Regions from separate parts of the Homo sapiens genome. Here region 1 is linked to region 2. The links come from fine-mapping of genetic effects on gene expression. A gene starts in region 2. The other region holds a variant in brackets. All regions are shown on one strand. Distances are between the middles of the regions. Region 1 overlaps AGGF1 (angiogenic factor with G-patch and FHA domains 1). Region 2 holds the start of AGGF1 (angiogenic factor with G-patch and FHA domains 1).

Region 1 (5,380 bases), 38 kb after region 2:
ATAATGTCTGGGTCTATTTCCATCTGTAAAATAAGAATATTTGTCTCACGTGTCTGTCATGAATAGCAAATGAGAAAATGTATATAAAAGCACTTTGTAAATTGTAAAAGTAGTACAGATGTGAGCTTCTATTTGTTTAGAAGCATAAATGTGAATTATATACAGTTTGAATTTTGCATAAATTTTTTGTGTCTAATTTTAAATATTTGTTTAATCACACTACACATTTTCTGAGTAGCGTTTAAGTATGTATTTTAAGTGGAGCTGCAAGTTCTGAATTTTAAGAAATCTAACATCTAATATTTTTGCCAGAACATAAGCTGGCAAAGTTGAGAACAGAAGAAACTTTCAACATTAGAGTAAAATAGAAATTTTTTCCAGTATTAAATAGAGGAAGCACCCTTATCCTCAAAAAGAGGAACTTTTTTCTGCTTTTGAAACAAGTGTTACTTCTGATGTGTCATTTTTATCCTGCATTTATAGAACGTAATGGTTTACGCAAATCAAAAACCTTCTGACTTTCCATAGAATATTTTTAATTTTTTATGATTTTTATTTATTTATTTTTTTGAGACAGAATCTTGCTCTGTTGCCCAGACTAGAATGCAGTGGTGCAATCTCAGCTCACTGCAACCTCAACCTCCTGGGTTCAAGCGATTTTCGTGCCTCAGCCTCCCAAGTAGCTGGATTACAGGTGCATGCCAACATGCCTGGCTAATGTTTGTATTTTTAGTAGAGATGGGGTTTCACCATGTTGGCCAGGCTGGACTCCAACTCCTGACCTCAGGTGATCTGCCTGCCTCAGCCTCCCAAAGTGCTGGGATTACAGGCGTGCGTGAGCCACCATGCCTGTCCAAAAGATTATTTCTTAATTTGACATATTTTTAAAGAGCAGGCAAAGAAGATAGAAATCTCAAACAAGGGAAAGCAAGAGACGTTGGAGATTGCATACGAAGGCCATTCTGTAAAGTTGCAGGACAGAGGGATGTCCTTGGCAGGGGGCAAGAAAGCACTTGTGGACCCAAAACTCAAAGGCAGTCTCAGGAACAGTTGAAAGTATTTTCCCCACCATCTTGTTGTAAGTGTGCTTCTTTTATTAGGGCATAACTTATATTTCTGCTCTGAATCTTTGATTCAAACATTTCATTTTACTTTTTCAGCCTTTAAAGTGGAAATGGATTTTGATTCTTTAAAATGAGGCAGTGGTTACTTATATTTCTGTGTGTTTCAGGGCCCAGGCTATCTCTTCTGCTTTTCTGTTTTACTAATCTTAGTGTTGGCTTATGGCCTTGTAGTTGCAAAATGGCTTTTGAAATTTCAGACATCATATTCATACCTAAAGCAAGAAGAAAGAAGAAAGAGCAGAGTGTAGTGTTAGTTCTCTTTTTTTAGGAAAACAACAGCTTACTCAGAAACTGACTTCTTAGGGTCATTAGCCAGAACCAGATAGCATGGCTACCCATAGAAGAGATGCTATAAAAGTGGGTAACAAGATGGTCACATTTGGCTTAAGCCAGTCATGAACCATCACCTGCAGCTGAGAATGTTGCCGTTGGAATGAAATAGGTTCAGTGAACCAAGCAGAAGGGGGCAGTGGATGTTGAATGGGCAGGTAGAGGTAACTGCCAGATAACGTACTTGTCCATCAGTGGGGACTACAGGGTTGCTTAAATTGTGATGCATCCCTACTATGTAATACTTTCTGGCCATTGAAATGAATAAGATAGAACTGTGTATACCCTAGTGTAGAAGAATATCTCACAAAGCAGATTGTAGCAAAGTATATATGGCATAATCCCATTTTTATTTTTAAATTACAAAGGTGTGTATTGAGTTGCTGATAACCCAGAGTGAGCAGACTTTCACATTTTATTATTTCTATATTTGAACTTTTAAAAAGTAAACAGGTGTGTGGTTAATGTGTATGTATATACACACTTGTGGTAAGAATTTACCCAGAAGTGGTTAAATTTGTGGTTAAGCCTTCATGGCTCAAACCCAGGCATTTTTCTCACATATATACCCAGTTTCACTTACCATCTATAAACTCATGACTTCTAGGCTGTCTTAGGTTATTGATTCTGAGCTTATGACTTACATATCCATCTCAGAGTCACTTTAAATGCAACTCCAAGACTAACTCCATAATCTTCTCCAAACCTAGTCTCTTCTAGTTTACTCTCTCCAGCTGGTAACACCATCCATCCAGTTGTGTGAG[T/C]CAGAAGCCTGAGTCAGCCTCTGTTTCACAACCACTAGCTTTTCTCCCCTTTGTCTGTTTCCAATATATTAAATCAGTTCACTGTTACCAGTCACCAAAATTATTCTGAGGGCTTCCTAACTGGTCTTCCTGCAGGCATTCTTTCCTCCATCTTCCACACTGCAGACAACTTCCATCTCATCGTCTCCTGTTTGGCTTCCCATTACTTTGAGGCCATAAAACAAACTCCAGGCCCATAAAACCCTAAGGGATCTGGCCACTGCCAGCTTTCCTGGTCTCATCTTTTGTCACTTTCCTACTTGTTCTCTGGGCCCTAGCATGCTGGCCCCTTTTTCAGTTTGTCAAACACAGCTGCCTTCTCTCATCACAGAGCCTCTTAACATTGTATTACATGTATGGAATGCTCTTCCTCCCCCATTTTACATAGTTAATTCTCACATAGTCTTCAGGTCTCTGCTGATTGAATCTTCAGGGATGCCTCCTTTGAAGCCCTGGACTAGATTAATTGCCTTTGATAAGTATTTTGAAAAACCATTTCTTTCATTTAGACCACTTAGCTTGGTTCACAGTTACATATTAGTGTGGTTAGTGTAATATTTCTCAGTTTCTCTAGATTGTTAAGTGCCATGTGAGCAGGACCTTGGGTATGCTTACTATTGCATCCGTAGAGCCTAGCACCACATCTGGTTTATACAACCATAGGCACTGAAGCACACAATGGGTAACTGCAAGTGGCTTGATGGAGTCTTATCAAGCTGTGACTGAAGAAACATGGGAACTGAGGCTACATAGAGGATCTACAACAATGGCTTTCAAACTATTTTGATGATGATCTACAATGTGAATACAATTTGTATTACAGTTCAGTACACGAGCATGTTCATAGCATATGTAACATAGATTTTGTATACCAGTACTTTGCCATAAGCTCATGTAATACACTCGTTTTCCACATCACTGATTGCATCCACTAAATTGCTTTCATAATGCACTAATGGGCTGTGTCCTACAATCAGATTTTCAAACCTTTTCAAAGAACCCATTGCATTGCCTTAGGAGCTGCAGCTGTGTGAGTCTATGTTTGTGTGATGAGGTGGGGAGAGTTTAGGATGCCAAACTGTGGTGACTCCAGTTCTCAGGCTCATTAACTACAATAGGTCTACATTCATCTGATTTGCAGTTCAAGCTTCCAGATAGGTTTGATTGCATAACAAAGAAGGGGTGAACAAAACCGAGCCTCTTACCTGTAGCCAAAACCGCATATTGTGTTGAGAAATTTACATAATTAAGAAATGAAGGATTTTATCTGTGAGACAATGAGGAATCCACTGAAGGATTTTAAGCAGGAAAGGAACCTCATTAGATTGCTTTATAGCAGAATAACTATGGTTGATTGAAAGGCAGAGTGGTGACTGGAAATCTTGAGTGTAGGTTGACCTCTTTGAGAGTTTGTTCAAATATTTATTGAGCATCCACCAAATGCTGTGCACATCTTGGAAGGCAGGAACCTTCTTTGTCTTATTCACTGCTCTGTCTTCAGCACCTAGCACAGGATTGGATGTTTGGGAGGTCCTCAATAAGCATTTGTTGGTGGAATGGATGGAATGCACATTTGTGTTGCATCTGGCACTGTGCTAGGCCCTTAACATACATTCTTTATTCTGGACACCATTTTATGAATTAGAAAACTGAGGCTTAAGAGGTTTTTATTTTGCTCAAAGTCAAAAAGCCGGTGTGACAGAAGTGGCAGGGCTGAGGTTTCTATCTTGATTCTTTCCATCCCACAGGGATGATTAAGAGCACAGGCTGAAGAGTCTGACTGAGCTGAGTTTAAATTAAAATTCTACCACTTCCAAGCTGAGTGACCTTTAAAAATTTATTTGAACCTCTCTACCCAAGTGTCTTCTATGGAGTTTGTAACTGCCCATCGGGTTCGCCTTGCCTGCTGCCCAGATAAAGCCGATTTATCAAGACAGGGGAATTGCAATAGAGAAAGAGTTTAATTCATGCAGAGCTGGCTAAGTGGGAGATGAGTTTTATTACTCAAATTGGTCTCCCTGAAAATGTGGAGACTGGGTTTTTTTTTTAAGGATAATTTGGCAGATGGGGGCTAGGATAGTGGGGAGTACTGATGGGTTTGGTCGGAGTTGAAATCATAGGGGGTCAAAGTGGGTTCTTCTTGCTGTCTTCTGTTCCTGGGTGAGCCAGGACTGGTTGAGCCAGATTATCAGTCTGGGTGGCTCCAGCTGGTGCATCAGAATGCAGGGTCTGAAAGATATCTCAACCACCAATCTTAGGTTTTACAATAGTGATTTTATCCCTAGGAGCAATTGGAGAGGTTCAAATCTTATGGCCTCTGGTTGCATAACTCCTAAACAATAATTTCTAATCTTGAGGCTAATTTGTTAGTCTTACAAAGGCAGTCTGGTCCCCAAGCAAGAAGGGGGTTTATTTCAAGAAAGGGTTGTTATCATCTTTGTTTTAAAGTTAAAATATAAACTAAGTTCCTCTAAAAGTTAGTTTGGTCTTTGCCGAGGAATGAACAAGGACAGCGTGGAGGATAGAAGCAAGACGGAGTCAGTTAGGTCAAATCTCTTTCACTGTCATAATTTTTGCAAAGGTGGTTTCAAGTTTTGGTGAAGATTAAATGAGATAAGGTTTGTGTGGCACTGAGCACACTGTCTGGTGCATAATAAGCCTCCAAATATTAGTGATTATTAGCATTGTTATTATCCATGCTAGCAATACCAAGGACATGGTTGTAGGAGTAGAATCCCAGAGTAGAGATGGTGGTTATGGAAGTCAGGTAGGATGAGGAATGAGGCTAGCAAGTAGTGGATGGGTCATCCTCATTCCACAAGGCAATAGGAGATAGATGTGGACAAGAAGACTGAGTCAGGAGCTGGCTTTCTAAGTGAATATTGGAGAATGAGGAGGAGATTGGTAGACAATAGTGAGAAAGGACAGAAGTTATTGTAGGTGACTCTCATCATCCTTAAAGGAGGAGGAATGGATTCTACATGACTTTGGAAATGGAGTCGTCTGGAGGAATGATAGGGAGATGTAGCCAGGCAACCCTGGCTCTCAGTACTCTATGGGAGCATGAGAGCTACAGGGAGAATTCCAAGAAGTAGATTTCCGGTCCCCATATGTAAAAATCTT
Region 2 (5,380 bases):
CTTGCACCATGGATCGACCTGGAGGCTCTGGAAACATGCTCCGAGAATAGCAGAGCAGAAAGACATACCGAGCCTGGGTCCCTGAAGAACTGTGGAGTCACTGGCCATGGACTGCCCCTCTCTAGGCTTCTGTAATGTAACAGGATAACACCCTAATTTGTTTAATAAGCCACTATAGACCACCTCTGATACTAGCACCTTAATGCAATTCCTGATATTCAAGGCTTTTTCTAAAAAAATGTCATTCTTTTCTAATGGTCAGAGGTAGGATACAGACTGGTATTACAAGGTAAAGATAACTTAGCCTTGAACAGATTAAGACAAATAAGAGGAGCACTGCTTCAAGTAGCAGTCAATAAGCTTATTTATTTTTTCTCCAGTTAATTACTAAAAACTGAAATATCATCTTAAAGATACCTTTCAAATGGTATTTATGGAATTTCTTATCCCCTAAAGAAAATAGGTGGAGAAAGTAGAAAATAGCATCTTTTTAAAAGGACTTCAATATGTTCATTAATGGAGTCATAATGCATCAAGGGAAGTCAGAAATTTTTTGCAATACATCTTTTTTTTTGCATCACAGGGGACATACCATGTCTTCTCACTAAACTTCCTTTGATGGCTTAAGGTTACTCTTGACATGACAATAAGGTAGAATCTCTATGTTTCCAGATACAGTGCCTTGTGAAGAACTCTTCAGGCCTAAGGAGGAATGTGTACAGGCCCTAGAGAGGGCAGGTCTCTGCTGGAAAGCTCACTGTTTATGAATAATCTAGTGGGCAGTGCACAAGACAAAAATACATACAGAGCCATATTTTAAAATTTAGATTTTATTATTATTTATGTATGGTGAGGCCAACAGATCAGGAGATGGTCTGCTATCAAAAAGACAGTTTATTATTCACCCAGCCCAAGAGGAGGATGCACACCAAGCCACACAAGGCAATGTGGAGAAGCACCAAGGTCCAAAGGAGGCAGAAGGAGTGGGAGGAAACATGGCAAAAAACATTATGTGATTTTTGCAGGAAGGAATGGACAAATCAGGATAAGCAGGTTTAGTTTGCATAATTTCAGTGGGATCTGAGATGTAGGAGTTGTTCCTAGTTGTCTGGTACTTTGCCCTGGAGTGATTAGGGCAGGGGAATATTGGCATGGAGTGTAACAGCCTGATAAAGAAGGTAGATGATCAGTGTGTGGCATGCTGGGTGAGTTGTTTGCTATGTCTAGGAATTAGCTAACCCTTGGAGGGGTTATCTCCCTGGTCAGGGAGACCCCAGATGCCAGAGCATCAAGAATACAAAAAATAAGAAAATATAGTTAATGGAAGTGGCCACTGATCTAAGACACCAAACAGGATTCTCTTGTTCAGCTGTGTTCAGCATTTACGGATACTGCTCTGCGACAGGCACTGTGCTGGGCCCTGAGAGAGGAGCATCTGCATGACACAGCTGCTGACCTCCACAAATCTCAGGCCCAGGACTCTGAGCTCATGATCTAATTCTAAATGACTTTGGCAAAGGAAGGAAGTGTGTTCCAAAGAAGGCCACATCAGTTTAAATATTGGCAAACCAATGCCAGGGTCATGCAGACAAAAGACCAAATAAATGCACCAAACCAGAGCATTTTTCTCCCCTTTTCCACAGAATATTGTCTCTCTCTTATTTTCCCACCAGGGATGCTCCTTTTTGCGACTCAGACCTAATGTACTTGCTCTATTTTCCCGGGGGGTCTAAACTCAGGAACCAGAAGAATGACTAAATGAGAAATAAAAGTAAAATTCTGAGCCCCTGAACTGACTGAATAGACCCATTGTTCACTACATAGAAAGCCAGTCATTGAGACAAGGAGTATTGCCAGGGAAGAAGGTTCTATTTGGGTGCTGCAGCCAAGGAGAATAGGAAATCAGTCTCAAATCCATCTCCTCAACCAACTAAAATTAGAGGTTTATATGGCAAGGGAGAAATGTGACTACATGTGAGAAAACAGGAATTAGTGAGCGGTAAGGATGAGGACTTGTTCAACAGGCAGCAGGTGGCTGGTTAGGCAATCATGATGGGTGAGGGGTATGGTGCCTCATTGTCCAGATGCAGTGATCTGGTAAGTTTCAATTCCTTGATACTATCTGGGAGGCCTCATGGTTGGTTTCCCAAGAAAGGAACTCAGATAAGAAAGATGTAACTTTCTGAAGTTTTAAGACTGGGAGGGTAAATTTCCAGGTTTATTCAAAAGAAACCATAAACATCAGTTCTATAGGACAGTTGGGCTGATTTCACACCAACCAGCATTCCTTCCTGATAAGAGACCACCAACCACAGAGAAGTTCTGGCCAATCTACCAGGGACTCACAGCGAGGGTTTTCATGTCCTCTGCTTTGCCATTTGACATCAGAGGGCTGAAAACTTCACACTGGGATCATGCTAACACCACCATTTTTTGAATATGGGTCCCATAGAGAGGCAGGAAGCTTAATTGTGCATGTGCATATTTCTCCTTTCATAAATATTCATGAATCCTCCTACAGCTCATTGAATATATTTGGCCACCCTGCTCAGCATAAATTTCTGTTCCCTTTGTCCTTCCTTCCAAGTGTCTGTTCTCAGCTTCTGACCAGAGGCTATGCTTCCAAGCCTGTCAGAAAGGCCACCCTGCAGGCTGTAACCCTTCATGAGAAATAAAGCCCTTTTCTAAATTTATTAACCTCCTCATTCTTCAGTTGACATAAGTAGAGCATCATAGTCCCCACAAATCATTTCTGGGATACTCTGTTCTTATTTGTAAAACAAGGAGATAGGAAATGCATGCTATACTAAAAGTTTGTTCAAAGAACATCCGCACGTGCAAATGTCTGAGACCAGAGGCTGCAAGCCTCCCTGTCGCTCTTAGGGCTTCGGTAGCCACATTGCCACAGCTCTCCACGCCCTCAGGTAACGCCCCTCCGCAGGCCGAGACGTCGGCACGTACACTGTCAGGTCTTCCCGCTTTCCGTCGCTTCCTGTTCCGTCTTGGTCCCGCCTGCCGCTGGCGCCGTTGTTTCCGGCTCAACTGGGGAGCTGCTGGAGCTCTTCTGGCCTCTGGTTTTCCGACTGCTTATCCGACGCTCCTCCCTCTGTCTCTGTAGCTGGAGAAGGTAGTTTCCAGGAAAGTTTTCCGGTTTGCAGGCCGCGCACATCGGGCAGGGGCCATCCTCGGTCCCCTTGCTCGTTGCTCGCAGCCCCGTTCGGCTACAAGTGAGTTTCAGGGCGTCATGGCCAGGGGCCACCGCGGCCAGCCGGGTGTGAGGCTGCCTTTCGCTGCCCGCGCGCTCCAGTGGTCTCTGGGTCCGCCGGCGTCCGTTTCGGCCTGAACGCAGCCCCTCCGCGGCGACGAGCAGTCTCGCGCCGGAGCTCATGGCCTCGGAGGCGCCGTCCCCGCCGCGGTCGCCGCCGCCGCCCACCTCCCCCGAGCCTGAGCTGGCCCAGCTAAGGCGGAAGGTGGAGAAGTTGGAACGTGAACTGCGGAGCTGCAAGCGGCAGGTGCGGGAGATCGAGAAGCTGCTGCATCACACAGAACGGCTGTACCAGAACGCAGAAAGCAACAACCAGGAGCTCCGCACGCAGGTGCGCGGTCCTCCTCAGCCCCGCGCCCCATCCAGCCCAGGCGAGGCCTTCGAAGCCCGTGATAGCCTCGGAAGGGGTCCCTGGCAGGGGCTCAGAACTACTGTAGAGTACTTAAAGTAAATAAGTAGAAGCTCAGCGCAGTTACAATTCCAAGTACCTTAGGAGCAAACCTGAGTTCAGGTTACTTGATTTAAATCAATGTCTCGCGGCTGGCGTGAATTGAACTTAAGTACTGTGGCTACATTGTCTTCATTCTCACTTGACCTAACATCCCATTGGCAGTAGGCGCATTTACTGTAGATCACATTTGAGTTTATTAAAATGCTGGACTTGAGTCAGAATCCCATCTCTGCTATTCACTGGGTGTGTGAACTTATATACCGAGTCTCAGTTCCCCATTAAATGAGAATGATAGCTCACAGTAGTAAAGGTGAAGTAAAACAAACAATTTTACAAACTTTTGAATGCTATACCTGTTTAAGGTTGCTCTTCTGGGCGTTTATCATCTTCGGCTTTCTTGTGTAAGTAGGGACGATATATAACTGCTTTTGTTGGAGACGTTAAGCAGCTTATTTCGTTTCCAAGATGGTAGGGGCAAATGTTAATACTTAAACTGTCACATTAAAAACAACCTTGGCTGGACGCGGTAGCTCACGCCTGTAATCCCAGCACTTTGGGAGGCCGAGGCGGGCAGATCACCAGGTCAGGAGTTCGAGAGCAGTCTGGCCAGCATGGTGAAATACAAAATTTAGCCGGGCGTCTCTACTAAATACAAAAATTAGCCGGGCGTGGCGGCGGGCACCTGGAATCGCAGCTAGTCGGGAGGCTGAGGCAGGAGAATTGCTTGAACCTAGGTGGTGGAGGTTGCAGTGAGCCGAGATCGTGCCACTGCACTCCAGCCAGGGCGACAGAGTGCAACTCTGTCTCAAAATAAAAACCAAAAAACCAAGAGCATAGTATTTTTTTCTACCTTGTTGGCAGGCCCTCTCTGCCAACAGATTATTTCCACATAGTAACTAGTTTCAATTTGACCGTTGTCTAGTCCTTCATAATTTATTGGTGGTTTCCTAAAACCAGTATATAGGCTGAACACTGAAACGTCATCAGACTTCTTTGTTTTGTTACCAAATGGACTATGAAAATAACTGTTGAGTTGCAATGACTTTGTATGACCATTACATGGAGTTCCTGACATGACATTATTGGAAAGTTTTTGTTTAGTCAATTTAAACACCTACGGTGTGTAATAACTATGCTAGGAAAATACAAATATGGTAAAAAAAAAAAAAAAAAAAAAACAGGGAGAGGTGGCTGGGCGCGGTGGCTCACGCCTGTAATCCTAGCACTTTGGGAGGCCGAGGCGGGCGAATCACGAGGTCAGAAGATCGAGACCATCCTGGCTAACACAGTAAAACCCTGTCTCTAGTAAAAATACAAAAAAAATTAGCCGAGCGTGGTGGCGGGCGCCTGTAGTCCCAGCTACAGGCTGAGGCAGGAGAATGGCGTGAACCCGGGAGGCGGAGCTTGCAGTGAGCCGAGATTGCGCCACTGCACTCCAGCCTGGGCGACAAAGCAAGACTCCGTCTCAAAAAAAAAAAAAAAAAAAAAAATGGGGAGACGGGAGCAAAATATAACAGCCTTTTTTACATGACAGCCTTTTGAAAAGCTCCTTTATAATTCTAAATTGTTGAAGTACTGCTTGCGTTAGAGATTCTAAAAGAAAACGTTTTTTGCTAATCTTCAGAGAGCCAGCATTTTGGTGTTACTGTTAATTTGATAAATCA

The links. PIP is the estimated chance that this variant, and not a neighbour inherited with it, causes the effect.
Region 1: its variant is fine-mapped to the expression of AGGF1 in monocytes (TOPMed, PIP above 0.99). The same link has a PIP of 0.9 or more in whole blood.

What each region holds. Positions count from the first base shown.
Region 1 is chr5:77,065,032-77,070,411 of GRCh38, forward strand. AGGF1 (angiogenic factor with G-patch and FHA domains 1) reads left to right here. Exons shown (of 14, transcript NM_018046.5): 14 at 1-203. Among named protein-coding and RNA genes, the nearest start is that of SNORA47, 13 kb to the right of the region's middle. The variant T/C (reference allele first, on the strand shown) is at 2,219.
Region 2 is chr5:77,027,381-77,032,760 of GRCh38, forward strand. AGGF1 (angiogenic factor with G-patch and FHA domains 1) reads left to right here and starts at 3,024. Exons shown (of 14, transcript NM_018046.5): 1 at 3,024-3,596. The coding sequence starts at 3,387. RefSeq lists enhancers at 2,682-3,261, 2,901-3,250, 3,262-3,841.